Linked DNA regions of Homo sapiens: all the other regions are linked to region 1. Evidence: fine-mapped expression QTL. A gene starts in region 1. Each other region holds a variant in brackets. All regions are shown on one strand. Distances are from middle to middle. Region 1 holds the start of PNMA1 (PNMA family member 1). Region 2 overlaps DNAL1 (dynein axonemal light chain 1). Region 3 overlaps MIDEAS (mitotic deacetylase associated SANT domain protein).

The links.
Region 2: its variant is fine-mapped to the expression of PNMA1 in whole blood (TOPMed, PIP 0.97).
Region 3: its variant is fine-mapped to the expression of PNMA1 in whole blood (INTERVAL, PIP above 0.99).

What each region holds. Positions count from the first base shown.
Region 1 is chr14:73,709,785-73,717,966 of GRCh38, reverse strand. It overlaps PNMA1 (PNMA family member 1), which reads left to right and starts at 3,583. Exons shown (of 1, transcript NM_006029.5): 1 at 3,583-6,184. The coding sequence starts at 4,328. The coding sequence ends at 5,389. MIDEAS (mitotic deacetylase associated SANT domain protein) reads left to right here. Exons shown (of 13, transcript NM_001367710.1): 13 at 1-2,845. RefSeq lists enhancers at 3,118-3,187, 4,128-4,187 and silencers at 3,408-3,687, 3,868-4,037.
Region 2 is chr14:73,673,086-73,681,267 of GRCh38, reverse strand. All of the region lies in intron 5 of DNAL1 (dynein axonemal light chain 1), which reads right to left. Among named protein-coding and RNA genes, the nearest start is that of DNAL1, 32 kb to the right of the region's middle. The variant C/T (reference allele first, on the strand shown) is at 4,445.
Region 3 is chr14:73,745,086-73,753,267 of GRCh38, reverse strand. All of the region lies in intron 1 of MIDEAS (mitotic deacetylase associated SANT domain protein), which reads left to right. It overlaps LOC124903345 (a long non-coding RNA gene), which reads right to left. Exons shown (of 3, transcript XR_007064264.1): 3 at 5,823-6,057. Among named protein-coding and RNA genes, the nearest start is that of MIR4505, 9.6 kb to the left of the region's middle. RefSeq lists enhancers at 5,778-6,291, 6,292-6,806. The variant TTTG/G (reference allele first, on the strand shown) is at 4,497.

The sequences.
Region 1 (8,182 bases):
TCCCGGAGAGGCTCAGCCTGCCCCTCCTGGGGCCAGCCTCCTTGCCTCTGCTCTGACCTCAGCAGCTACACCTAACCCCACCGCACCCTACCCAGTGTCGATATCCACAACCCAGCCCCCAGGCCTGCACTTTGGAGATTTCTGGATCCTTCCCTGGGAGGGAGAGGTCTCCTAACTCGATTGGACAGGAGCCTTCATTCCTTGACTCGTGTCATTTGGGAGCTATTTATTTATTCTTAGTATTTAATTTTTAACATCCTCTCAGGGACCAGGGGCCTCCTGCTTTTCAGAGGCCCGAGTGCATTTATCCCAAAACGAGGCATCTTGACATCCCCTATCCCCACCCCCTAAATTCCCAAGGCCCTAAGGTCCCTCACCTGGTTGCTCTGGAAGCTCTTGCTGATAGGAATGATAGCAACACTGAAAGAGCGTGGGAAGGTGGAGGGTGTCACCAGACCCACACAGAGCAAGGGAGATTAAGGCAGTTCTTGCTGCCCCTTCTCTGGCTGTGCTTTGCCTGAGGGAAGAGTTGGCAAGAGGCCAGAATTCTAGTTTGGTTTATGGGGCCTGGATTCTGGCTTGAAGAAGCCATATTTGGCATGGGTGAAGTGAAAGGGCCAGGAGGTTCTGGAGGCCCCTTCACTTCCAGTCCCATAGCGGGGCTCAGCTATTTTTCTGATCTTATTCAACTTTAGTTGTGCAAAAGAAATTCTAAGTGAATGCGCGTATGACAGGTCAACGTATTAGGAAGGAGCCAGAAAGTATTCATACTGCTACTCCTTATGAGATAGCCAAGAAGCATCATGTCAGTAACTGGGAGTGGAGAGGGAGTTTTGTTTTGAAACTATGCAGGTATTTTTCAGCATCCATTTGTACATTAGTATGGTTCTACAGGACCCCAGCTGTGGAAGTAACAAATTTCTTCTCCCTCCAGACTCTTGGATGACTACCTAGATCCCCAGCTTACCGGTTAGTTTCCTCCACAGGCTTCCATGAGCTCAGTGTCCCAAGACAGCAAAAATCTGGTATACCCTGTAGAAGCAGGGGGGTAGCAAATTTAGGCTCTCTTCGAAATTACTTGTACAATACGAGTGCCTTCGCAGCTTAGCCCCAAAGTGCTACTTATGTTTCCCAAGGTCTTTTCTATTCAAATCATATTTGGTTTCAGGCCCCTTTATGGGCATACGGTAACAGAAACCTCCATCATTCATATGAGACCCTTTTGTCAGTGGTAACATCTTGTACTTGGAAAAAAAATTTTTTTTTTTTTTTTTTTTTTTTTTTGAGACAGAGTCTCATTCTGTCGCCCAGGCTGGAGTGCAGTGGTGTGATCTTGGCTCACTGCAACCTCCGCCTCTTGGGTTAAAAGAATTCTCCTGCCTCAGCCTCCTGAGTAGCTGGGATTATAGGCACACACCACCACACCCAGCTAATCTTTTTGTATTTTTTTTTTTAGTAGAGACAGGGTTTCGCCATGTCGGCCAGGCTGGTCTTGAACTCCTGACCTCAGGTGGTCCACCCGCCTCGGCCTCCCAAAGTGCTGGCATTACAGGCGTGAACCACCGTGCCTGGCCGGAAGTCTTTAAAAAATAAAGTGATTCTACTCTTCTAAGCTTACAGAGACCAGACCAGGTGAATGTAACTGGGGAAAATCAAGATGGTACCTCTCTGCATTATCCCGCCAGACACTGTATTTTATGCATTCATGTCTAGGATACAGTGTGAAAATTAAAAAGTTTAGAGGGCAGATGCAATTGTGGCAAGTGACCTGCCAATAAAGCAGGTGCAGCTATAGAAGCTGGCATAGGTATATCCTTAATGGTGCTTTCTCCCTGGGCTTGTCTTTTTGTTGTTTTTTTCCCCCTATATTCAGAGCTCCTTGAGAAGTGATAAACACCTCCAGCTTTCTAACATCCTCCCCACACCATCTCACCATATCCATCTCCCAGCATCCATCTGCATTCAGCTAAGGGCGGGAAACTGACCTAGTGCCTGTGTTGCAGACCATTTCTGAGGTCTCCACCATCCAAGGAGGCACAGCCGTCATTACTGTCCTCCATGCCTTCAGCAGCCCCCCTCACAGCTAAGGTACATACCACCCCTTCTGCCGCGCCTCCACCCCTGGCACCAAGGTCTTCTGCTGCTTATGTCTAAAGGGATCACCTATATTTAACTGCCTCAGTGACCTAACCTCTTTCTTCTCATGTGCCAGATGTTAAGATGAAGGAGGAATACAACACATACTCAAGCCTCAGCCTGTTTAGTTGTTTTCACTGGGGCTCGCTTTTCTGGGACGGTATTTATTATCAGACTGGCAAGCCTAACTCCATAGGTTTACAGGAAGTAGGGATATTTTTATAAAACAATTGTGTCCTCCCCACATTTTGCTATGTTAATATTTGCTTCTAACAATTTGCAGCTGTTTCACTTTTTCCTCATTTGTCTCTAAGTTGAAGGCTTTGTTGGAGGGGACAGAGCACAGGAACAGCCTTGACAGTCTGTAATTATTGTACAGATATTTTAATAGCATATAAATAAGTATATTCCTTTTATTTTGAAACAAAAATGATCAGACACTGCCTTTTGTGTGTTTGCTGCCTGTGGCATCCTTTTTTAAAAAGACTGTTACATATTAAAATAGTGTACATATATAAATATTACCTCTTTTGCTGTACAGTTGTGATAGAGACTGAAGATTTTATTTTTTGTGTGCTTTTTATAAGAAAAAAATTAATACACTAAAGAATCTTGCTGATGTGATTGTAATGTACCTATGTAACTTATTTACTTTTGAATGTTCTTCTGTATCTTTAAACCTTTTATTAAATAAGGTTTTAAAAATTCAGAGTTGAATGCTTTGTTCTCTTGGGATTTTCACCATCTGGGGTTGATGTAAGTGCGCCTTGTCTTGCTTGCAGGGAGATTACTCGACATTTTTGAACCATAAGGATTCTCTTTTAGCAGCCTATTGTCAATGATGCCAGCCAGGAAAAGGAAAATAATACACTAATGTTTGCCTGGCTAAAAGATGACTCAGTAGACACAGACAGATTTTTACAAAATTTTAGACAAGAAAAAGTCTAAACTCAGTGTCTCACACAAATACACAGAAATGGCGCACTCCGACATTTTGGCTTCATTGGGATGAAATATGCAGGGTGCACAGTGTGGTCAGGGGCAACGGGAAGCCAGGGTTCTGAGGAGAGTATTTTCACGTGCAGGGTGGACTGGCTGAGCAACCCGAGTAGACAAGTCCACCATGAGGGATGCATTTCCAACAATATCATCTTAAATCCACTCCAGGATTGGGTTATTATTTTTAAAACACGGTGCTTAGTAGTAGTTGTTTACTGTTAAAATGCTAAATTATGAAAAAGGAAATGCGCCATCAGAGAAACAAATGCCCGAGCCCCTCGCTGGCTCCACGGCAACCGCTCGACCCCCGCGAGCCGCCGGAGCAGGCGTGCCTCGCGCCGGCTGGGACACCGTTGCCATGGAGACGCCCGAGCAGCTCCGCCGCGGGGGCGGGACGGGGCGGGGCGGGGCGGACGCCGCTCGCCGGCTGGCCCCATCCTCCACTGCAGCAGTAACGTCGCGGCGGGTTGCGGGTAGGACTGGACGCCAGAGCAGCCGCGCAGCGCCTGAACCGCTGCGGGCCGCCGCGGCCGCCCCTTCCCACCCTCGCCTCTGCTGTCTCCAGCCTCGCTTCTCCGACTTTCCTGCTCCTCTGCTGCCTTCGTTTCTGGTCCTCGGCCGTCCTCGCCGCCCGCCCAGAGGAGTCCCCGCGCCCGCCAAGAAGCCGCTTTCCGCTGGCCCGCAGCCGCCGCGACTTCGGCACAGTTTCTCCCTCTGGCTAGTCTCCCAAACGGCCGCTCCTCGCCCGCGGGAAGACCAGGCTGCGACCGCGAACGCCCGATCCTCTCCAGGAGCCGCAGCGAGCGCCCGGCGGCCACGCCCCGCGACCACACCCCGGCGGCTCTCGGCCCAGCGCGCCTGCCTTCGCCGCCCGCCGTCGCTCCTCGCCCGCTGCACGACGACGCGACGCCCCTGCTGCAGGCGGCGGACCCGACCGGACCCAGACCCAGACGCAAGATGGCGACGGCCGCGTGACTGCCTCAGCGTCCCCGAGCTCGGCTCCGAGTGCACCTACGGACTGACTGTGGGGGCAGAGAAGGGCGAGATCAGGACTCTGTCTTTGTTAATCGTGACTGCATGAAGGTCGCCTCCCTCGGGCCTACTTGGTGGGAGTGTCTGGTATTGTTCTAAGGCCAGGAGCACGGTGAGCCACAGTCTGTTGGTAGAATTTGGCGTCTTGATAGTTGAGAAAATGGCGATGACACTGTTGGAAGACTGGTGCCGGGGGATGGATGTGAACTCCCAGAGAGCTCTGTTAGTCTGGGGCATCCCAGTGAACTGTGATGAGGCTGAAATCGAAGAGACCCTCCAGGCTGCGATGCCCCAGGTCTCCTACCGAATGCTTGGGAGAATGTTCTGGAGGGAAGAAAATGCGAAAGCAGCCTTATTAGAGCTCACTGGCGCTGTAGATTACGCCGCGATCCCCAGGGAGATGCCGGGCAAAGGAGGGGTCTGGAAAGTGTTATTTAAGCCCCCAACTTCTGATGCTGAATTTTTAGAAAGATTGCACCTCTTCCTAGCTAGAGAGGGGTGGACCGTGCAAGATGTTGCCCGTGTCCTTGGGTTTCAGAACCCTACTCCGACCCCGGGCCCAGAGATGCCAGCAGAGATGCTAAACTATATTTTGGATAATGTTATTCAGCCTCTTGTTGAGTCCATATGGTACAAGAGGCTGACACTTTTCTCGGGGAGGGACATCCCAGGGCCTGGAGAGGAAACCTTTGATCCCTGGCTGGAGCACACTAATGAGGTCCTAGAGGAGTGGCAGGTGTCCGATGTAGAAAAGAGGCGGCGGTTGATGGAGAGTCTTAGAGGCCCCGCCGCTGATGTTATTCGCATCCTTAAGTCCAACAACCCCGCGATAACCACTGCCGAATGCCTGAAGGCGCTTGAGCAGGTGTTTGGGAGCGTTGAGAGCTCTAGGGATGCCCAGATCAAATTTCTGAACACTTATCAGAACCCGGGAGAAAAATTGTCTGCTTATGTCATTCGTCTGGAGCCTCTGCTACAGAAGGTGGTAGAGAAGGGGGCCATTGATAAAGATAATGTGAACCAGGCCCGCCTAGAGCAGGTCATTGCCGGGGCCAACCACAGCGGGGCCATCCGAAGGCAGCTGTGGCTTACCGGGGCTGGGGAAGGGCCAGCCCCAAACCTCTTTCAGTTGCTGGTGCAGATCCGTGAGGAGGAAGCCAAGGAGGAGGAGGAGGAGGCTGAGGCCACCCTTCTGCAGTTAGGCCTGGAAGGGCACTTCTGAGTGCCAGGAAAGGCAGCTTTAGTGCAGACCTAGATCACAGCTACTTTTCTTGTCCCTGTGGGGTCTTACAGATGTGTCTCTGAGTAGTAAAGGCTTAGCCTTGTTCTGTTTTGTTGTTTTTTGGAGGGGAAGGTTAGTCAGGCCTGAGTATTCATGTAACATTCTAAAATTGTGCCAGCGAGCACCGTGAACGACTGCAATGCAAGCGGGTCTTGCTGGCTAAAATGCCAGGTAAAGGGTTGGTTGGACACAGCGCTTAGTGCACGCTGTCATCATGGACATCATAATCAGTTGTGAAAAACACGCGAACCTATGACACTTCTTATTCCACACTGAATGTGAAATTGCATGTTCAGATGTTTACTACGAGGCCTGGCTCACAGGAAGTGTTCAGTAAAAGTATGCACTGTTAGATTACTGATAACGCGGATAGATTTTTGTTTACCATAAATTGTTCCAGATTTATATTAATGGAAGGAAGTGTGCATTTATTAGCTATTACTCAACTTTACAATGCAAACATCTTATTTCTCATCTTTAAACATGTCGACCAGTTTAATTGAAAAGTATTCTGAGACTGCAAAATGGGGTGTTAAAAAATACTGCAGTTACGGAGCTGTGTAAACCAGTTTCTCATTGCATAAGATACAGATGTAAATTGCATGGAGAGGTTGATATGCACCTGTACAGTAATTCACTCCCCCATTTCACATCTTTGTCAGAGAATAGTTCTTGTTCATACTGAGTGTTCTAAATTTGAAGTTATATATACAAATTAAAATATTTTAAAAATTCTGTTGTCTTCTCATTTTTCTGGCATGTATAAACATTTTTAGCCTAAGTAAACTGTCCTTTTTTCTTATGAAGACTTTGTCATTAAATCAAACCATTTATTTTAAGCTTTGTATGATACTATGTGAATTTAAATGGCAGGTCCTTTTTTTCCTTCCCCTCTTGCTGTCATCTTAACAGTTTTTTGTTTTGTTTTTTAATTTTTAAAATTTTTTATTTTTATCGGGCAGAGAGGGTCTTGCTCTGTTGCCCAGCCTGGAGTGCAATGGAGCGATCTCGGCTCACTGCAACCTCTGCCTCCCGGGTTCAAGTGATTCTCCTGCTTCAGCCTCCTGAGTAGCTGGGATTACAGACATGCGCCACCACGCCTAGCTAATTTTGTATTTTTTTAGTAGAGACGGGTTTCACCATGTTGGTCAGGCTGGTCTGGAACTCCTCACCTCAAGTGATCCACCCACCTCGGCCTCCCAAAGTGCTGGGATTACAGGCGTGAGCCACCTCGCCGTCTCTACTAAAAATACAAAAATTAGCCGGGTGTGGTGGTGCGTGCCTGTAATTCCCGCTACTTGGGAAGCTGAGTCAGGAGAATCGCTTTGGGAGGCGGAAGTTGCAGTGAGCCGAGATTGCGCCATTGCACTGCAGCCTGGGCAACAGAGTGAGACTCCATCTCAAAAAAAAAAAAAAAAAAATTTAGATACCAGATTTGGCTCACACTTGTAATCCCAGCACTTAGGGAGGATTGCCTGAAGCCAAGATTTTGAGACCAGCTTGGGCAACATAGACCCAATCTCCACCCAAACTTTTAAAAATTAGCCAGGCATGGTGGCACACGCCTGTGGTCCCAGCACTAAGGTGGCCACCCAGCGGCTAAGGTGGGACATCGCTTGAGCTCAGCAGGTTGAGGCTGCAGTAAGCCATGATCGTCCCACCGCACTCCAGCCTGGTGATAGAGTGAGACCCTGTTTCTCAAAAAATTTTTTTTTAGAAAATCTTGAAATGGGGTTCAGGAGGTTATCTGGCAGTGTTTTTCTCTTAAGATCACTTTTCAGCTAAACATTTTGTTTCACTGAAGAAATAGCTATAATTCATCACACCTGTGTAAAATGAAGGCTATTTTACAGCAACCATTTTATAGCAGGACGATATAAAAAGGGAAATACAACTTTAAAACATGTTTATTTTGCTGCAAAGATTCAGTGATTGAAGATGTCCATCTTTTGAGATCCTCAGTGAATCTAAAGTTATTACATGAATATTGTGTTCAGTGAGCCTTTCCCTAATAAGGTTTTAAAATTATAGCTGAGCCATTCGACAAGTCTATAAGGGGTAATGTATGTTCTTCCAGATTTTTCGGTACACGTATTCGCTTCATGTCAGTACATCCCTTTCCTCCTGTCACAAAAACATCTCCACATACTTGCCTTGGTTCCCAACAGATATGCTCAGCTTCACTTACCACAAACACTTGGCATGTCTTCACCTGCTACCCATCATTCACAGAACTTTCCCCTCCATTCCCACCAGCATCAGGTGCACACTCACCCCTCTTACACTCTTGACACACTGTCATCTCCCCGTCAGTACTCCCATCATAACATACACCCTCCTCCTGCTCCACATGTACACGATGTCAGTCTCCCACCCCCAACATATATTCCCATTTCTCCTCACACCCACACACACTCCCACCACCAAACACCAACCAGCCACCACATATGTATACACACTCCCACTCCACACATATACACACATACTGCATTTTTTTTTTTGAGACGGAGTCTCGCTGTGTTGCCCAGGCTGGAGTGCAGTAGCGTAATCTCAGCTCACTGCAACCTCTGTCTGTTGGGCTCAAGTGATCCTCCTGCCTCAGCCTCCCAAGTAGCTGGGATTACAGGTGTGTGCCACTACGCCCGGCTAATTTTTGTATTTTTAGTAGAGACAAGGTTTCACCATGTTGGCCGGGCTGGTCTCAAACTCCTGACCTCGTGGTTTGAAAGTACT
Region 2 (8,182 bases), 37 kb after region 1:
CAGCTATTCAGGAGGCTGAGGCAAGAGAATTGCTTGAACCCAGGAGACGGAGGTTGCAGTGAGCCGACAGGGTGCCACTGCACTCCAGCCTCAGTGACAGAGTGAGACTCCGTCTCAAAAAAAAAAAAAGCAAAAAAACAACAAACCCAACAACAACAAATAACAACAACAACAAAAAATCTACAGTTGTGTACGGTAATGTCCTAGGCCTTCACATTCACTCATCAGTCACTCACTGACTCATCCAGAAAAACTTGCAGTCCTGCAAGCTCCATTTATGATAAATGCTCTATACACCTGTATCATTTCTTATATTTTACACTGTATTTTTACTGTACTTTTTCTATGTTTAGATATACAAATACTTACCATTGTGTTCCAACTGCCTGCAGCACTCAGTACAGTGATATGCTGAGCAGGTTTGTCGCCTAGGAGCAATAGGCTAAACCATATAGCCTATGTATGTAGTAGGCTATACCATCTAGGTTTGTGTAAGCACACTCTATGATGTTCACACAACAACGATTGCCTAATGTTGCATTTCTCAGAATATATCCCAGTCATTATGTGATGCATGACTGTATTTCAAAATAGCTAGAAGAGAAGATTTTTAATGTTCTCACTATAAATAAATAATGTTTGAGTGATTGATATGCTAATCACCTTGGTTTGATCATTACACAACGTATATATATGTATCAAAACATAGCATTGTACCCCATGAATAAGTATAATTATAATGTGTCAATTTAAGAATTACTCAGAAATAAATCTTTATACATGAAATATACAAGGTCTTATAGGAATTAAAACTATGGAATTCTACTGAAGGACATAAAAAATATGAATACGTCTTCTCATAAGATTCATTATTATAAAGCTATAACTTCTCTCCAAATCAATTCACAAATGTAATATTTAGGAGTTTTTTCATACATGGACAAAGATGGTGGAGCAACACAGCTTGTACAAAAGATTGCAACAACCTAAGTGTCCGTCAGCCGTGGCCTAGCTAAATATATTAATACTATGCATTGAGGAAAACAAGGTGGAACTTACCTGTATGTGCTGAAGTGGAATAATTTGCAAGATATATTAAGATAATTTGATAAAATGATTCTCAAGTTTCTCTGAAGAGTAAATGCCCACAAATATTTTGAAAAAGGAGAGAGGATTTTTCTTGATATCAAAATAAATTCTAAAGTTAAAGAAAATTAAAGCAGCATGATATTGAAGCTGAAATTTATAGAAAGAACAACAAACAGAAAGAAACTGACCATCCAGGAACCTACCCATGCATATCCAGGAGTTTAGCAGGTGGCATTTACAAACAGTAGGAAAAAGAGACTTTTCAATAAATGGCTAACCAATTAAAGAAAAAAAAAAAAGACATGATACCTGCGCCTCATGACACATGTAAAAATAAACTCCAGATGAATTAAGAGTATAGACTTAAAATTTTTAATTAAGAAGATAAGACTATTTTTACAATCTAGTACCTAAGACCTTCTATGTAAAATACAAAACACTGAAACCATAAAGATTTGACTAACAAAAATTTTTAAATACCATTTGGTAACCACGAATAAGGTAAAAAGACAAGAAACAAACTAAGAGAAAATATATCAGTTTTGAAAACTGCATTAAATTTCAATGTGGAAACTGTGATCAGATTGCCAGGGTCTGACTAACATGACTTAAGTCTTCTGCTTCTTCCTCTTCTCTGCCTCCCCTTTCCTTCTGCCCTTCCCCTCTACTTCATTAGCTTCTTTTTTGTTTGTTTATCCAATTATCTCTCAGTGAACACTTAGGTTGCTTCCACCTTTTGGCTATTATAAATAATGCTACTACAAACATGAGTGCATTTTTCTGTTTGCATTTTTTAAGGAGAAAATAATCAGTATTTTAACAGAAAGAGTATTAAAAATGTACACAAGATTTAAAAAAACCAACAAGTATAAAAACAAAAGTCTTGGCCGGGCACGGTGGCTCACGCCTGTAATCCCAGCACTTTGGGAGGGTGAGGCAGGCGGATCACAAGGTCAGGAGTCCAGACCAGCACGGCCAATATGGTGAAACCCTGACTCTACTAAAAATAAAAAAATTAGCCGGGTGTGGTGGCATGTGCCTGTAGTCCTAGCTTCTTGGGAGGCTGAGGCAGGAGAATCGCTTGAACCCGGGAGGTGGAGGTTGCAGTGAGCCGAGATCCAATCACTGCACTCCAGCCTGGGGGATGCAGCGAGACTCCGTCTCAAAAAAATAAATAAATAAATAAAAATAGAAAAGTCTTTCTCACCCTATACCCCAGCTCCCTTGCCCAGAAGTAACAGCTATCACCAGAAATACTCTATGCATATATGTACATATAAATATTCACTTTGCTTTTTCTACACTTCATATATCTTGCAAATTATTCCATTTCAACACACAGAGGGAAGTTCCACCTCATTGTTTTTCCTCAATGCATAGTATTTATTAATATATTTAGCTAGTCCACTGCTGATAGACACTTAGATTGTTGCAGTCTTTTGTATAAGCTATGTTGCAGTGAAATACTTGCTCTACCATCTTTGTCCATGTATGAAAAACTCCTAAATATAGAATAGGTGGGACAAAGAAATACACATTGAATATTGTGATAGCTATTGACAAACTGCCTGTCTCAGCAACAGTGTTTAAGGATGCCTGTTCACAACTGCTACTCCAGGCACACTGCCTATGGGGTAGCACTGCTAAAAAAAAAAAAAAAAAAAAAAGAATACCTGCTCACTATATTTGAATACTTTACATAACTGAGCCTCAGTTTCTTTATCTTAAAATAAGGATAATAACATCTACTTGTGAGCTGGAAATGAGATAATGCATGTAAAGAGCCTACTATGTGGTTAATAAATGATAATTACAACAACAATATAATAGCATTTTCAATATTGATAATTATTAGGGATATTAAAAAGTACCTATAATTCAGTAAGAAAAAGATAAATCTAGTAGAAAAATAGGTTAAAAATGTGTTTGGTCAATTTCCAAAAGATGAAACCTAAATGACTAGTATATAAAAAGATGTTCAGCTGGGCCCAGTGGCTCATGCCTGTAGTCCTAAGCACTTTGGGAGGCCGACATGGGCAGATTGCTCGAGCTCAGGAGTTCAAGACCAGCCTGGGCAACATGGTGAAACCGTATCTCTACAAAAAATAAAAAATATTACCTGGGTGTGGTGGTGCGTGCCTGTAGTCCCAAGTACTTGGGAGGCTGAGGTGGGAGGATCACTTAAGCCCAGGAGGTCGAGGTTGCAGTGAGCTGAGATTGTGTCACTGCACTCCAGCCTGGGTGACAAAGTCAGACCACCATCACACACACACACACACACACACACACACACAAATATATATATATATATATAAATATATGGGCCGGGCATGGTGGCTCACGCCTGTAATCCCAGCACTTTGGGAGGCCAAGGTGGGCGGATCACGAGGTCAGGAGATCGAGACCATCCTGGCTAACACGGTGAAACCCCGTCTCTACTAAAAAATACAAAAAATTAGCCGGGCGTGGTGGCGGGCGCCTGTAGTCCCAGCTACTCAGGAGGCTGAGGCAGGAGAATGGCGGGAACCCGGGAGGCGGAGCTTGCAGTGAGCCAAGATCATGCCACTGCACTCCAGCCTGGGCGACAGAGCCAGACTCCGTCTCAAAAAAAATAAATAAATAAATAAATAAATATATTTATATATATGTTTATAAAGAAAAGACATTCAAAGTCAGAACTGACTAGATAATGGAAATTAAAACAACACGGTACTTGCCGCGAACAGTGGCCTGTAGTCCCAGCTACTCAGGAGACTTGAGGCAAGAGGGTCACTTGAGCCCAGGAGTTTGAGTTCAGCCTGGACAACATAGCGAGACCCTGCCTCTAAAAAAAAAAGAAAAAATCAACACCACCACCAGACTCCATTTTGCCTATCATACTGGCAAATGTTAAAAATATGAATACTACTGGCTGGGCGCGGTGGCTCATGCCTGTAATCCCAGCACTTCGGGAGGCCGAGGCGGGCAGATCACGAGGTCAGGAGATCGAGACCATCCTGGCTAGCAAGGTGAAATCACGTCTCTACTAAAAATACAAAAAATTAGCCAGGTGTGGGGGCGGGCGCCTGTAGTCCCAGCTACTTGGGAGGCTGAGGCAGGAGAATGGCGTGAACCCAGGAGGTGGAGCTTGTAGTGAGCCGAGATCACGCCACTGCACTCTAGCCTGGGCGACAGAGCAAGACTGCATCTCAATTAAAAAAAAAAAAAAAAAAAAATGAATACTACTCACTGATGTTGAGGGTGGAGGGGATAATCTTCATCCATGTGCCAGTGATGGAAATAGAAACTAGCATTAGCATTGTGGGAACAATTTGAGGTACCTATCAAAAATTTAAAGGCACAAAAATATCCTCAG[C/T]TTTTCTACTTTCATAAATCTATCCCATCACATGTAAATACGCAAATAACTGCTGAGGGACATGTGTGCAAAGATGTTCACTGCAACATGATTTGTGGAAAGAGGAAGAAATTGAGAGAGAGAGAGAGAAAACCCACACTCCTCACCCAAGAAAAAAAAACCTGGAAATAATCGAAATGCCCAGCAGTATAGGAATAGTTAAATACATGATTGTATACTGATACTGTAGAAAACTACACAGCTATTTTTAATGTATTAAATCTGCATGTATTGACATTGAAGGATATTATTGATATATTGTTGAGAGAAAAAGCTAAATTACAGGAAAAAATGGCTTGTACACTATCAGAACAAACAATATGACACACACACACATATACACAGAGCTATTTATTTGTATATCCACAGAAAATATTTTAAAGTGCACAAAACAATAAAATTTTTGTTACTTCATGGAGCTGGTAGGGAATAGGAGGTAGAAAGACCAAAGATTTTCACAGCATATTTCACATATTTATAAATTGCTTGATTTGTTTTCGCAATGAACATATGGTACTTATAGAATTAAAAAAAAAATTTTTTTTTTTTTTGAGACAGTCTCTTGCTCTGTCACCCAGGCTGGAGTGCAGTGGCGTGATCTCGACTCACTGCAAACTCGGCCTCCCAGGTTCAAGTGATTCTTGTGCCTCAGCCTCCCTAGTAGCTGGGATTACAGGTACGTGCCACCACGCCTGGCCTAGAATTAAAATTTTGACTCCGTCTCAAAAAAAAAATATTTTATTTTATTATTTACTTATTTATTTATTTATCGAGACAAAGTCTCACTCTGTTGCCCAGGCTGGAGTGCAATGGCGCAATCTCGGCTCCTGCATCCTCTGCCTCCTGGATTCAAGCGATTCTCCTGTCTCAGCCTCCCAAGTAGCTGGGATTACAGGCACGCGCCACCAGGCCTGGCTAATTTTTGTATTTTTAGTAGAGACGGGGTTTCACCATGTTGGTCAGGCTGGTCTCGAACTCCTGACCTCGTGATCCACTGCCTCGGCCTCCCAAAGTGCTGGGATTACAGGCGTGAGCCACTGCGCCCAGCCTACAATTTTAACTTAATAGTTGTGTAACTGTAATAAAACATGTTGAGTCACTGAATAAACACTTACAGAGTGTCTACTATATATATCAAGCACTATTGTAGATGCTAATTAACAAAACTGAAATGGCCAGGCCCTCACAGTGGCTCACGCCTGTAATTCTGGCACTTTGGGAGGATGAGGCAAGAGGATCACTTGAGGCCAGGAGTTCAAGACCAGCCTGTACAACATAGTAAGACTCCATCACTACAAAAAAAAAATTTTTTTTTTAATTAGCTGGGCAAGGTGGTGCACACCTGTAATCCCAGCTATCCACCTGTAGTGCCAGCTTCTTAGGAGGCTGAGGAGCAAGGATTGCTGGAGCCCAGGAGTTCAAGATTATAGTAAACTATACTAGTCCGAGATTACAGTGAGCTGTAATCATGCCACTGCACTCCAGCCTGGGTGAGAGAGTGAGAACCTGTCTCTAAGCAAACAAAAATCAAAACTGAATGGTCATTAGGATTTGTGTGTGTGTGTGTGTGTGTTTGTGTGTGAGAGAGAGAGAGAGAGAACAAGAACAAGAATTTCAGGTAATAATGAGTAACATGAAAAAATAAAATTACAACTGGTAGGAGTTACTCAGCCAGGCGTGGTGGCTCAGGCTTGTAATCCTAGCACTTTGGGAGGTTGAGGCAGGTGGATTGCTTGAGCCCAGGAGTTCAAGACCAGCCTGGGCAACATGGCGAGACCCCTACTAAAAATACAAAAAAATTAGCTGAGTGTGATGAGGTGTGTCTTTAGTCACAGCTACTTGGGAGGCTGAAGCGGGAGGACTGCTTGAGCCCAGGAGACACTCCAGCCTGGGCGACACAGTGAGACCCTGGCTCAAAAAAATAGTTACTCCACCAGGCATGGTGGCTCACGCCTGTAATTCCAGCACTTTGGAATTACTCAGCTCAGGCTGAGGCCAGAGTATTGCTTAAGCCCAGGAGTTTGAGATCAGCCTGGGCAACATAGTGGGACCCTGTCTTTACAAAAAATTAAAATATTAGCTTGGTATGATGGCACACACCTGTGGCCCCAGCTACTCAGGAGGCTGAGGTGGGAGGATGGCCTGAGCCCAGGAGGTCAAGGTTGCAATGAGCTGTGATTGTACTACTGCACTCTAGCCTGGGTGACAGAGTGAGACCTCGTCTAAAACAAAAAGAATTAGTGCTTAGAGAGCTGCTTTAGATATACGGTGATTGGGTCACCTTTGAGGAGGCAACATCTGAGCTGAGGTGTAAAGATCAAGAAGGAGCCCACATCGTGATTGGGTCACCTTTGAGGAAGCAACATCTGAGCTGAGGTGTAAAGATCAAGAAGGAGCCCACATCGTGATTGGGTCACCTTTGAGGAGGTGACATCTGAGCTGAAGTGTGAGGGTTAAGAAGGGGTCCGCATTGTGGAAATCCATGGCAATAGAGTTTTTAAGACAGAGGGAACAGCCAAGTATAAAGATTCTCAGGTGGGAATGAATTGTGCATGGTCAAGGAACAGAAAGAAGGCCAGTCACTAGAGATTATCAACTAGGAGAAGAGAAACATGAAATGAGATCAGAAAGGAAGGCAAAGGCCAGATCATATATACAAATGGGTTTATAATGTACCTCAATAGTTTTCCTGAATAGTTATAAATCAACCCCTTTCCTTCAACTTAACATTCCATGTTTCACACATTACAGTAATCATTTTTAATTTACTGAGACAGCTATTTAAATCATGCTATGAGGCAGATGTGTCTAGATGAATAAGTCATCTAGTATGTGAACATATTAGAAACCCAGTATCTGCATCCCAATGCAGCTTTCTTTTTCTTTCCTTTTTTTTTTCCCCTCTGTCACCCAGACTGCATTGCTATGGCACAATCATAGTTCACTGTAAACTCAAACTCCTAGGCTCAAGCAATCAATCCTTCCACCTCAGCCTCCCCGAGTAGCTGGGACTATAGGCATGTACCACCATGCCTGGCTAATTTCTTTTTAAATTTTCAGTAGAGACGAAGTCTTGCTATGTTGCCCAGGTAAACTCCTGGCCTCAAGGGATCCTCCCACCTTGGCCTTCTAAGTGCCAGATTACCGGCATGAACCACTGTGCCCAGCCATAGCTTTGTTTTTCTTTATTCTGCAAATAAGCAATAAAGCTTTTGGACAAAACCCCACATTACACCCTGGAAAGAAAAACAACTATTGGCTATCATTGATAGGAGTGTATAAAAAGTGACGATATCTAAAACAAGTGATAGTTCAGCCAGATAGCATCTTAATACACAATACATACCTTTAATCCTATATTTATAATTTATTTGTGGTCTCTGGGTATTTATTACATTTTATGGAATAAATTACATGCTATAGTAATACTTGAGAATTTGGGATTCTATAAGGGATTCTATAAATACCTGGGGGAACATCAAGTATATTGACACTAAAAGTTCTGGAGTACATTTATCTGCAAACTATTTCTTTATAGATAACTCAAAGTTACATTTAGCCTGAAATATAATAATTCTGAATTTCTGTATTACAATTTAATATTTTACGCTTTATGCACAATGTCTCTATATTTGAAATTTTTCCATCTAAGGCTCAGAAACTGGACAGAAGGCTAAATATCCTTAAACTTACCAATTT
Region 3 (8,182 bases), 35 kb before region 1:
CTGGGAAGGGTGGGGAAGACCTCCCTGCTGCCTCCCTCTCCAGATGCTTCACAGGGCAGCCAGGAGCCCAGCCTTGAGCCCTGAGGCCCTTCTGTGGAGGACTCAGCTGTGGGCCTGGGGACTGCTCGGCCAGGCACATGCACAGGAAGAGGGGAAAGGCTTGGTTTCAGCTTAGTGTGGGCTTCCTGGGGACCTCCCAAGTGTGTCCTCCCCCTTAAAGGTATCCCAGCCTCTGAGGTACTGAGAACAGCTCTGGGGAATCAAAGGCTGGGGCTAGGTGGAATCTTTGGTCTCCCTTCTTGGCTGCTGGGTCTGACCTGGGGCCCATCATTCCAGCTGGCTTGGCCCAGGTCCCAGAGAGTCTGGTTGGTGTGTACTTGGGGCTTGGGCTGGATGCTCTGCTGTGCCCGCATGCTGTGCCAAAGGCCTCTGGGTGTATTTCAGGAACAATAAAGAATAAATCAACATAGGAGAAAAGGCCCTGCAGCAGCTGCTCAGAGACTGGAGAAATGCAAAGAATGTGTGAGCCTTTGGCAAAAGTCTTGCATCTTGACCAGGGCCTGAGGAAGGGCGTGAGGCTGATGTGATGGCTCTGGAGTCAAATGGGCGTCTGTCTGTGCCCAGTTTGCAGCCCTTCTAGGAGGCCCCAGGCAGCCACACTGAGACTCCCCTCCCTCTGCTGGTGGCAAATTTTTTTGCTTCCTGGTCGCTAGCATGTACTAGGGAGCCATATTGCCCCCGTTCTTTACTCTCACACTACACTGCCAGACACCGACCCATCCAACCCCCAAGCACCAGGTGGGTCTTGGCCCTTTCCAGCCCTGACCAGTCAGGAGAGCCTGGGTTGATGAAGACTTGGTAGGCTTGACACACATGCTACACCCCCTGCTTTACCTCCCCCAGACGAATGTCAAGGACCTGGCAATGCCAGGTCTAGGGGTGCTAAGTGTGAGAACATCTACCTGGGAGGCCGTCACTATAGCTCTGCTCAGGTAGTCAGCCATGTGTCCTTAGGCAGGTCATTTTACCTTTGAGGTCTTGGTTCTATGAGCCATGAAATTGAGGTTTGGACAAATGATCTTTGGAGTGAGTGGGCACCTCTGTCTCCTCTACTCGGGATGTGCGATGAATATATTTTATTTAGGAAGTTAAGTTATTGGGAGAAGCAACACTCTGAGAGCACCATGTGGAGATATGGGTGGCTGTGGCTGGGGGCTAATGCTCAGTGTCCTGAGTGGGGGAACCCAAGCAGAGACCTGATTTGACCCAGAGCTCAGGGTGCCAGGAGAAGGGACAGGAGCCTAGACTCCATGGGGACTTGAGTTATCTGACAAGCAGGGGAGAGCCAAGACTTTATTTATTTTTTTGAGACAGAGTTTTGCTCTTGTCGCCCAGGCTGGAGTGCAGTGGTACGATCTTGGCTCACTGCAACCTCTGCCTCCTGGGTTCAAGCGATTCTTCTGCCTCAGCCTCCCGAGTAGCTGGGATTACAGGTGTGCGCCACGATGCCTGGATAATTTTGTATTTTTAGTAGAGACAGAGTTTCTCCATGTTGGTCAGGCTGGTCTCATAAACTCCTGACCTCAGGTGGTCCAGCTGCTTTGGCCTCCCAAAGTGTTGGGATTACAAACGGGAGCCGCTGCATCCGGCCTGGCTTTATTTTTAAAGAGCTGTTGGCTAACCTCAGTTGTGGGGTTGGAGGGTGTGGAAGGGGTGTGACTTCCTCTTAGGCAAAGATGCCGAGCCCTCCACAGGTTGGCCCACTGGAGGTAATCACCTGTAGCCTCTTCACCTTCAAAGCCACTCACCTGCCCGGCCTCTCCCACCCACTTTACCCGACCAGCCACATCTCAGAACATCATGGTGGTTTTCAGGGGCTGAAGCTGCTCTCCAGGGAGCAGACGTGAGCAACCCAGAGGCTGCTGCTGTCTATCCCAGGCAGCCTGGTGTGACCTCCAAGTCTGAAACTCTTGGGGGAGGAAGTTTGCAGAACAGGCAGGCCTAGGTGCCAGTCCTGGCTTTGCCTCTATACTGCTGTGACCTTAGGCAAGTGATTTGACCTAAGGTCTTCTCAGATTTCTTGTTTAGAAAGGAGGAGTAATAATACCTACCTTGATGGCCTGGTGTGGTGGCTCACGCCTGTAATCTCAGCACTTTGGGAGGTTGAGTTGGGAGGATCCCTTGAGGCAAGGAGTTCAAGACCAGCCTGAGCAACAAAGTGAGACTCCATCTCTACAAAAATAATAATGATAATATCTACCTTTCTGTGAGATGATTACACAGGATAATGTGTGTAGTGTGCTTAGCACCATGCCTGGCACATAGTAGCACCTTCAATGGAAATTTTGGAGGTATTGATGAAGCCTTGTTTGTGTGATGTTGGGATAAACCTTGGCTCCATGCTTTGCCCAGTGTCTTGCCAAGTGGTGGGGCCTGCCTAAATGGAGGCATGAAGCATTGTTATTGGAGTCCTTGATTTTGCTCCTGGCTGTGTGTCCTCGGACGAGTTTATTTCCTTCTCTGGACTGCTCTGTGGAACGAGGAATTGGAGTAGGTAAACATTGACATCCCTTGATATTTGGAATCTGTTCAGCTTTCCCAGCTGGGCCCTGCTTTGCCAGTTGGCTCTGAAGAGAGGCCCAAGCCACCTTTCTCCATGTGGCATGGAGGCTTTTATTCCAGAGTGAGATGGTGCTGAGCCTGCAGCCTCCAGCTCACCTCTGCAGTCCCCCATACCTCAACACCCTTTGGGCTCTCTTGGCTTCCAGGGGCTTTTACAGATACCCCCAGTCTGGAGGGGAAACTGTTTCTGGCTGACTGGGGCTAGGATAATTTCTTAAGAGGAGTGTTAATAGACCATGCTGTGCTTGGAAATGCCCCCAGGGAAGAGCAGCAGCTCCGGAGCTGGCTTTGTGAAGTTCTCAAGTGTAGCATTCCTTCTGAGGCCCACCGGTGTAGATTTCAGATTTTTCTGGGAGGGTGGTGGAAAGAGCAAGGACTTGGAAGACACAAGATAAAGATTTGAATCTTGCTTCTGGCTCTGTAACAGCAGAGCCTCAACTTCCCTCTGGAGAATGAGGACATAAGACTCCTCCATAGGAGGTTTATAAGCATGGATTCGAATTTGTAGAGGACCCAGCCCAGCGAAGTACTCGTTAGCTCCCTTCTTTTGGGAAGGATCTGTCTTTTGGATATTTTGTAGATTGGCCATGGAAGTGGAAATATTTGCCTGTGGCCATTTTTCCTAGGGAAAAGCAGGGCTGCCTGACAAGCTGTTGCAATCCCAAAGGCCTCTCCATCCCCTAGTTGTTTTGATGTCGGGATCAAGCTTGGGGTCAGGTTCAATGTGTGTCTGGGAGAGGGGATACCCAGGCCTTTGCAAGTCTGAGCTCTGCGGCTGCCTAGGACTGTGACACCGAAGGTGTGGAGAACATGGGCTGAGGAGGGAGGGGCCTTTCTGAGCTGAGAGAACTTGGCAAGTTACTTTTAACCTTCGTTTCCTGTAAGTTTCCCAAATTTCCTTCGGTTATTGATTTCCAATTTCAACCCGTTTTGATTGGAGAACATACTTTGAGTGATTTCAGTCCCTTTAAATTTGTTGAGACTTGTCTTATGGCCTAATGATGATCTATTGTAGAGAGTGTTCCTTGTGCTATAAATATACATATATATATTTTATATATATATTATATTATATAATATATAAAAAAGTATGTATTTTTTATTTTTTCTGAGACTGGATCTTGGTCTTTCATGCACGCTGGATTGCAGAGGCATGAACACGGCTTACTGCAGCCTCAACCTCCTGGGCCCGAGCAATCCTCCTGCCTCAGCTTCCTGAGTAGCTGGGACTATAGTGGCCACCACACGCAGCTAATTTTTTTTTTTTTTTTTTTTGTAGAGACACGGTCTCGTTTTGTTGCCCAGGCTGGTCTTGAGCTCCTGGGCTCAAGTGATCCTCCTGGCCTTGGCCTCCCAAAATTTTGGGATTACAGGCACCACTGTGCCGGGCCTGCTCTTTTTTAAAAAGAAACAAAAAAACAGTTCACCTACAGCTGCAGTATCTGTGTGCTCTTGAGAAGAGTGTGTATTTGTGTGTATTTTGCTGTTGTTAGGTGGAGTGTTCTATATAGGTCTTCCAGGTCTAATTGGTTTATAGTGTCTAAATCTTCTATTTCCTTGTCGATCTTCTATTTAGTCGTACTGTTCGTTGTTGAAAGTAGAGTGTTTTCTCTCTCTCATGTGTATGTATAAAATAACATGAAAAAAAGTAGAGTATTGAAGTTTCCTACTGTTATTTGAGTTGTTCATTTTTTCCTTTCAATTCTGACAGTTTTTGCTTCATGTATTTTGGGGCTCTGTTGTTAGGTACATGCATGTCTATAACTGGTATAGCCTCCTGAGGGACGGACACTTTGTTCATTATAAAATATTCTTTGTCTATAATAACAGTTTTTGTCTTAAAGTCTATTTTGTCTGATTTTTTTTTTTTTTTT[TTTG/G]AGACGGAGTCTAGCTCTGTTGCCCAGGCTGGAGTGCAGTGGCGCGATCTTGGCTCACTGCAGCCTCCACCTCTCAGGTTCAAATAGTTCTCCTGTCTCAGCCTCCTGAGTAGCTGCGATTACAGGTGCCTGCCACCACATATTTTGTCTGATATTAGTATAGCCATTCTAGCTGTCTTTTGGTGACTGTTTACAATGGTATCTCTTTTTCCATCCCTTGCTTTCTTTTTTCTTTTTTGGTACAGAGTCTCACTGTGTTGCCCAGGCTGGAGTGCAGTGGCGCAATCTGGGCTCACTGCAACCTCCACCTCTTGGGTTCAAGCAATTCTCCTACCTCAGCCTCCCGAGTAGCTGGGACTGCAGGCGTGTGTCACCATGCCCTGCTAATTACTTTCAACCTATTTATATCTCTGAATGTAAAGGGTGTTTCTTTTTTTAATGAAATTGCATCTTTTTTAAAGAAGTCTGTTCTGCCATATAATTGCATATTTTTTTAAAAGTCCATTCTGCCAACCTCTGCCTTTTAGATATTTAATCCATTCACATTTAAAGTAATTATGGATAAGGTAGGATTTATGCTGCCATTTTGTGATTTGATTTCTGTATGTCTTATGTCTTTTTTATTCTTTTGTTCTTCTATTACTGTCTTCCTTTATGTTAAATAGATATTTTTGAGTATACCATTCCTGGTCTGTAAATAACGAGACACAGAACAGTAAGGGTTAAACAAAATGCTGCCTGCAATGGACTTAGCACAGTGCCTGGCAAATAGTAAGTGCTCAGTAAACATGGGCACTCAATTGGGTCCCAGGCGTGGTAAGAGCCACAGTTAACCCTAGGACTGGCTGAGAGCAGAGTCCCCTCAGGGCTCTGTGCGACCCCTCATGTCTCCTGGGCAGGCCATAGCACTCTGACAGGTAGTGCCTTTGGGGAATGGGGAGTGGTGGGTCCTGGGAAACTTCACTATGCCAGGCTGTGGCCCTTTAGCCCTTCCCCTGCTCCAGTGCATGGGCACCACCTGGCTGCTTGTGAAGCATCCTAGATTCCCCATCGTGCTCTTCCCACCCCCGACCCCCACCCCACCAGACCCATGAACTAGTCTCTCAGGGTGGGTTTTATTGCACACACTGAGGTTTAAGAACCACTGCTTGACATCCACACAGACGGGTATTGACACAGTGACAGAGAGAGACCTGGTTTGGGGTCAGGAGGCTTAGATTTGAATCTTGACTCCTCAGTCATGAGTTCTGTGAACTGGGACAAGTTACTTTCAGAGCCAGCCTTTCTCGTTTCTCAGTTGGAAATAAGTGGTTATGCAGATAAGCAGTACTCTCGCATATTCGGCATGCAGCTAGTCCTGGTGGCACTTGCTTTTTACAAAGGTGTTTCTTTGGTCCCTGGATACAGGTCTCTTCCCACCCCAGGCTCTTAAGCTCCTCAAAGGCAGGAACCAGTGAGTGGCGGCTCCTGGACCAGACATCTGGTTGGTTACCTGACAAACAGTCCACTGCCCTCCGTCTTGGATCATGTTGTCTCCAGGCCCTGCTGCTCCCAGGCTCTGTGCAGGAACAGAAGGGAATTGAAGAAGCATTATTGGATAGTGGTATAAGAGCATGAAGATTCAGAATGGGTGACAACAATATGTGCTGGAGGGCCAGCTGGAGGAGGTAGGCCTTGAGGGAAAGCAGATTGTGAGAGTGGAGGCAGGGCTTCCAGGCAGAAGGAACAGCTCTAGGGGAGGCTCAAAGTCAGGGAGCTCCCCCAGGGGTTGCCTGTCCCCAGGGGTCACTTACCCCTAGTCCCTGCACGGGCTTCCTTGCATTATAATTAGCGTGTGTTTCTGTTTCTCTGTCTCCCCACCGGCCTGGAAGCTCTGTGTCTCCTGTGTCTCCCAGAGCCTGGCTTGCAGCAAGTGCTCAGCAAATGCTTGTGGAGCAGATGAAGGGTCAGCAGGCCCACCTGCAGAGCTGCAGCAGGGAGGGTGTGTGGTGGGGGAGTGGGCAGGGCAAGGCAATGGCAAGGGAGGCCCCTGTGAGTGGCCTCATCTGTATCTTTGGCCCAGGGCAGAGTCTGGCACTGGGGTGCTCAGGCACAGACTTCAGAGAGCCCTGCTCTAGCCCTGCTGGGGAGCCAGGCCTTTCCAGAAGGGAAGGGAGGTAGTGCAGCAGCCTCCAGTGGTGGGAGCTGTATAGGGCATAGAGACTGTTTTGAGGAGACAGAGCAAGGACCCCAGCGGTCCCAGGAGGCCCTCACCAGAGGGCCTCAGGAACATCTGCTGAGTCTCCTGCGGAGGAAGCCTAAACCTGCCTGCTTCTACCCTACTCCTGCTGGGATCCCTGGGTCCTGTTGGAATGGGTTTTCCAGGGCTGCCTGTGACTCTTCGTGGCCTTTGCCTAGGAGGAAGGCAGGCAGTCCCTTCAGTGCAGGCAAAAGCTGAGCCTGGAGGCTTAATCCTTTTCTGGCTTTGCTCATGACTGTTTTCTCTCTGCATTAGCAGCCCCCACCTCCCCCACCCCTGGCAAAACAAACCTGGCTATCCCAGCTTCCCATGGACACCCTGTGGGCATTTGTGGGGCTATGGGGGAGGGAGGCAATCAAGGTAGAAGACTGGACGGAGCCCTGAGAGTGCCTCATAAGCCCTGAAAGGATTCCTCTCTTACACATCCCTTTAAAAGCATCTCAGTGGTTGGCATTTTTACTGTGTAAGCTCAAACTTCAGGCAGCTTGAACCCTGGCCAAGCTTCTGATCCTGAGCAGCTTGATGGCTGAGACCCCTGGGACTCGTGACTCTCTGGCCTGTTGGCCTGGGCTCTGCTTTTCAGAGCTGAAGTTCAGTCCAGAGAAGTGATGGTCCAGGGACTGTCTGGATTGGGAATGGGCCGACCATAGGGCCTCTTGCCTGCTCTCTCATGCTCCCAGGGAAAATGACACTTGTGGGAGTCAGATCCACGTCTGTTGTATCAGAGCCTCCTTGTTTGCAAACCCCTTGAGAATAGTGCTTATGTGTCCAGTGGCTTGCAGAAATGGGGTACACTGGCCTTTGTGTGAAGTCCCAGTTGGTGGGGGTGCATGTAGCATTGCAGATGGGGTCCAGAGGGAAGGTTTGTCTAGGGCCTGGGCAACTCTAGCTGGCCCAAGATGGCAGTTCCAGGCCATTTACCGAGTCTGGCTATAGCTGGAGACCCCAGAATGTCTGAGAGAGCTTTTCAGGATGTGAGCCCAGATGAGGGGGCCAGCTGGGCCATGCTGTGCTCCTCTGGTGGGGGTGGCAGGGACTTGTTATGGCTCCCTGGCATCCTGGCCAGACCTTAGTGTCTTGAGGTCCAGCCATGTCAGGGCATGAGGTAAACAGACCCACAGGCTTGTGTCCCTGGCCACTGTCTAGGTGGGGGTAGAAGCCTAGAAAAGTGGGGTGGAGGGCAACAGTGGAGCTGGCACTTTTCCAGTTGGCCTGCATGTGTTGTGGGGCAGCAGGTGACAGTCAAGGGCAGGTGGCTTGTGGGCCAGCAGGGAGAAGGACTTGTGTTCCACATAGGTGTAGAGGGCCTGGGGCCAGGGGTAGGGTGGGATCCCGGGCTGGGCCTTTTCACTTCATCCCAGCATCTTGAGGAGCTCTCATGTGCACCAGAGAGCCCAGAAGTCAGGAGCAGGCAGGAGCCCAGGGCAGGAATGCGGGCTGTGTC